Regions from separate parts of the Homo sapiens genome. Here region 2 is linked to region 1. The links come from fine-mapping of genetic effects on gene expression. Tissue or cell type: whole blood. Region 1 holds a variant in brackets; the other region holds the start of a gene. All regions are shown on one strand. Distances are from middle to middle.

Region 1 (2,683 bases):
CAAGACAGGGAATTGCAATAGAGAAAGAGCACACGCAGAGCCAGCTGTGCAGGAGACTGGAGTTTTATTGGTACTCAAATCAGTCTCCCAGAGCATTCAAGGATTGAAGTGTTTAAGGGTTACTTGGTGTGCCAGGGGCAGCCAGGTGACTCAGGAGTGCTGACTGGTCCGGTGGGAGATTAAGTCATAGGGAGTGCAAGCTGTTGTCTTGCACTGAGTCAGTTCCTGGATGGGGGCCACAAGATCAGATGAGCCAGTTTATCAATTTGGGCGGTGCCAGGTGATCCATCAAGTGCAGGGTCTGTAAGAGAAAGTGCTCCTAACCGAAATTAGCCGGGAAGCCTCTCAGGTTTTAAGTAAAGAAAACCTGTCTTTGACTACAAAGCCACGTTTCATGTTTCTTTCTTCTTTCTTTAACTCTTACAGGCATGACTATGGTCAGTGAGCCAATTCTAGTCCATTGCCTGTTTTTGTGCAGAGAGCAAGCTAAGAATAGATTTGCATTTTGAAATGGTTGAAAAAAATCAAAATAAGACTATTTTGTGATATGTAGAAATCATATGAAATCCAGATTTCAGGGCCCATACATAGTTTTATTGGAACAGTCACACTCGTTTATTGATTGGCTGTGGCTGCTTTCATTCTACAAAGGCAGAGGTGAACAGCTGGGACACAGATGGCCTGAGAAGCCTAAAATATTCACTATCTGGCCCTTTACAGAACAAGTTTGCAGACTTCCAGCTTAATGTGTCAAAGATTTTTACAAAGTCCAATTACACAAAGCCACCACTAGTGGGAGGATAAATTGGTGCATCCTCTTCTGAAGGCAATCACAATTTTAAATGCTGAGATGCTCTGACTCAGCATTTAGGAATGTAACCTACAGATTCCTTTGCACATGTTCACGGGGATTTCCATGAGGATATTTCTTGGTACACCATCCTTTGTAATATCAAAGGCCTCAGGGGATCTGCCCACCTCAGCCTCCCAAAGTGTTGGGATTACAAGCATGAGCCACTGCTCCCGGCTATCAAAGGCATTAAACAAGACATATTTCTATCAGTAGGGGAATAGTAAACTAAATAGTAATCATCCGTACAACTTAAAAGCCATTAAAAAGAATTAGATCTTGGCCTGGTGCGGTGGCTCATGCCTGTAATTCCAGCACTTTGGGAGGCAAGACAGGTGGATCACCTGAGGTCAGTTCAAGACCAGCCTGGCCAACATGGTGAAACCCCATCTCTACTAAAAATACAAAAAATTAGCTGGGTGTGGTGGTGCACACCTGAAATCCCAGCTACTCAGGAGGGTAAGGCAGGAGAATCGCTTGAACCTGGGAGGTGGAGGTTGCAATGAGCTGAGATCGCACCATTGCACCCCAGCTTGGGCAACAAGAGCCATACTCCATCT[CAA/A]AAAAAAAAAAAAAAAAAAAAAAAAGAATTAGATCTCTAAGGAAAGGGTTGAACCCAGTTATGCTACATAGTTTCATGCCTTTGAGGCACTGTATATATTGCTCGCTCTGAGACATTTGCCCCGTCCTTACCTATGAATTTCTCAGACAACTCACAAAAGGAGTTCATGTCAACTGATTCATGCATCAACTGACAAGACTCAGCTTAACTGTTGGTTCCTTTGTGAAGCCTACCTTGACTCCCTCAACAGAAATGCCCACTCCCCTCCTTGTGCCCCCACAGTAATATGGATCTACCTCCATCATACACTTATTTCTATACTGCCTTTGTTTAGATGTCCACCTCCTCCACCAGACTCCAGAAGGGCAAGCACCATGGCTTGTTCTTTGCACTGCTAGGACCCAGCACAACCCTTAGGCAGTAAATACTCAGGGATCTTTGCAGAGAAGCAGGGATGAGGGCACTTGGCAAGGGCTATGAAGATCTCCTGCCTCTCATCTGTGGGCAGCCTTAGAATTTTCCAGGCTGATTGCTGGGGATCAAATAGTCACATGGGGATCTACTTGGCACCTAAACTAATTCCCACATTCAGGGAACCTTGTCATTCATGAGGAGCCAGGTCCTCCTCTAGGACTGAAGGTGGCAAAAATGTGTGCCCTTTGGAAACACTCCATGACACATGAAAAAATGGCCAACGTTGAGACTCAAAATCTTAGCTATGGAAGCCTGGGAGGATGATAGCTTTGGATGATCTGTGGCCTTCTGATGCCTCTACCACTGCAACACAAGAGCCCTTAATTGTCCAGAGTCCTATAAAAAAGGATGGAAAACTAGGACCACCATCCAGGGGCTTATGCAAATACATAAAGTGTCTGAATTATACTCTAAACTCAACCAGTATCAGTTAGGGTAAATCAGTAGCAAATATCTTTTTTTTTTTTTTTGAGACAGAGTCTCACCCTGTCGCCCAGGTTGGAGTGCAGTGGCGTGATCTCGGCTCGCTGCAACCACAGCCTCCTGGGTTCAAGCAATTCTCCTGCCTCAGCCTCCTGAATAGCTGGGATTACAGGCATGAGCCACCACACCCAGCTAATTTTTGAATTTTTAGTAGAGACAGGGTTTCACCATGTTGGCCAGGCTGGTCTCAAACTCCTGACCTCAGGTGATCCACCCATCTCGGCCTCCCAAAGTGTTGGCACTACAGGCGTGAGCCACCGCGCCCAGCTCCTTACCTTTTTAAAGAGGGAATGAAAACTAAAACAAAGGGCACC
Region 2 (2,683 bases), 79 kb before region 1:
ATATAGTGGTGAATTCTGAGATTTTAGTGCACCCATCATCTGAGTAGTGTATATGGTACCTAGTGCATAGTTTTTTTTATCCCTAGGCTCTCTCCCATCCTCCCCTTTCTGAGTCTCCAAAGTCCATTATTTCACTGTGTATGCCTTTGCATACTCATAGCTTGGCTTTTGCTTATAAGTGAGAACATACAGTTTTTGGTTTTCCACGCCTGTATTACTTTGCGTAGAATAAGGACCTCCCACTCTTCCAAGTTGTTGCAAAAGACATTATTTCATTCTTTTTTTGTGACTGAGTAGCAGCCTATGGTGTATATATACCACATTTTCTTTATCCACTCATTAGTCAATGGGCACTTAGATTGGTTCCACATCTTTGCAATTGTGAATTGTGCTGCCATAAACATACGCGTGAAAGCCTACTTCACTTTAAGCTGTGAGGGCCACAGGCATGTCTGTCGTGTCTACCTTGGCGCTATTCTTGGTCCCAAGCCCACATCCTGACACCTAATAATTACTAACTTGCCGCACCACTGCTTCATCACTTATGTTTCTGTTTCGTAGACCCTTTTTGCCAGCCAATCTGAACTATTTGCAGTAACACAAGTGTGCCTTCCTCTCTAAATTCTAGACTAGTTACAATTTACCCATTTATTCACACATTCAGTCATTTTTCTTGGAATTACCACTATCTAACTCTGTGGCTGATACTAGGCAGGTTCTCTGAATGAATAAATGGAAACAAACTTAGAAGGGCAGCTCAAGAGGTAATACATACCCAAGGAATTGACCAATTTAAGGAACTGCATACAAGAACAGTTTTTCCCCAGGCACAAGTAAACAAGTGCAAGTATGAGGCAAACAGACTTCCTTCTCTTGCTCTGCCCGGTCTGGGAACCATATTTTAATTAATCAAGACTTTGTAGAATGAATCGGAACAAAACCAAAACAAAATAAAGGGCAAACAAACCAACTTCTGACAAAGACCTGACTGAAAAGGTAATCAACTCCCCTAAACCCCAAGTCTAAATGGCACACTTGCTGCAGCTCAGCCGACAGTCCCCCGGCTCCATGAAGCCCCGCCCCGGGGAAGGCGGGGCCTGCGGGAATTGGCGGGGATTTCCCGCGAGGCCACGCCCTCTCTGGGCCGGCCGTAGGCCCGCCTGCTGCCCCCGCCGTTTCCTAGGAGATGAAACACACAAGACGCCGGAGCTTCACAAGGGAGCGAACGAGGTAAGCAGCAGGCGCGGACAGGTAATCCCCAGCGGGCTGCAGGGCCACCACCCTCTGTCCGACCCAGCCGGAGCCCGACCTGCGAGGCTGGCCGGGCATGTCCCCTCGGCGCCCTGTGCTACCAGGGCCAATCTCCGCCCGGAGACCGGTCCCTGACGCCGGTAGGGGAAGGACTGGAGGGAGGAGGGTCCCCGGAGGGGCGGAGCGGGCGGGAGTGGTCAGCCCGAGGGAAGGCGGTCGGTGTCTCCCAGACCTCTTGACCACTTTCCCGCCTCCTGGACCGCGGGGGCCGGCCTGGCGTGGGAGGATGACGGCCGGGCGTCCCTTAGCCTGAGACCCCCGCCCCTAAACTCTCCTCCGGGATCTCCCACCTCTGCTCCCCTGCTGCTTGGGCTGGCGGTGGAAACTGTTTTTAGGACAGAGAGGCAGGATTGGGTCTCAGGGAGGCAGCGGAACTGAGTTCAGAACTGTTGCAAAATCTAAAAGGAGGGAGAAAAACAGGAATTAGGTCCGACTCCAGCCCTCGCTGGTGCATCCCAAAGGACGCTCAGGTGAAAGTGGAATTCCGCACACCCCCGTCCCCCCCAACGGCGCCGGACTCCCGGCGCCCGGGGACGCCCCCTCCTTCCACCACGCGGTCCCTGGAGCCTTTTAAGAGCCCTGGTTTGCAGAGTCGGATCAGAAAGTGTGTGACGAAAACTGTCCCTTTTCTGCAAGTAATCCGTTTTAATTTAGGGACAGGTCGAGAGTGCGGTGTCGAGAGCAATAAAACTGGTTTTTAGTGGTTAGTAATCTCAATCCTACAAGGAAAGAGCTGTATGCAAATGTGGTTAGATAATCGTTTAAAAGAAACAGACATTTGTTCTAATGATAACGGAATTCTCAAAGAGGGAAGCCAAAGTTATCTGACTTTATTTATTCAGAAACACAACCCATTAAGTGAAATAATGGTGAAAACAAAAGTGACTTTCCAGCTTTTCGATCGGGCCCCGCCTCCCCGGCCCTTCAATTCCCGAGGCTTGACCGGGAGGGAGAAAGTTCCCCCAACCGCGCCACCGCCTGCTTCCACTGCAGGCACCGGGCAGGACGTTTAATCTCTTCGTCGGGGTGGACTTTTTTTGTGTATAAGCTTTGAAATAATTTGTGAATATGAGCACAGAGAACTGTGCTTTTATATTTTAAGATACAGTCTTTGTTTTCCCATTGTAATAGCTCATTTAATTTCTGTAAAACTTCGACTTGGTTAGTTTGGGATCTTTTTTTCCTGCGTTGCTTTTTAAAGAGTTTGGTGACTTTTAAAACGTTAATTACTCTTTTGTTGTGTATTAGAAGCGTTAAGCCAGCCTCGGAGTGACATAATATGTTCTAGAAAGCCACGTTGAAGACATCCAAGCCTTATCTCTTCAGTTTTTGGCAGACGCTTGTTTTACCCTTCATTTGCCCTCTTTGCTAA

Evidence for each region. PIP is the estimated chance that this variant, and not a neighbour inherited with it, causes the effect.
Region 2: MAK starts here. The variant in region 1 is fine-mapped to the expression of MAK in whole blood (INTERVAL, PIP above 0.99).

What each region holds. Positions count from the first base shown.
Region 1 is chr6:10,757,664-10,760,346 of GRCh38, reverse strand. It overlaps a transcript of TMEM14B not described here. Among named protein-coding and RNA genes, the nearest start is that of TMEM14B, 11 kb to the right of the region's middle. The variant CAA/A (reference allele first, on the strand shown) is at 1,411.
Region 2 is chr6:10,837,050-10,839,732 of GRCh38, reverse strand. MAK (male germ cell associated kinase) reads left to right here and starts at 1,194. Exons shown (of 15, transcript NM_001242957.3): 1 at 1,194-1,230. RefSeq lists enhancers at 512-671, 722-781 and a silencer at 1,002-1,131.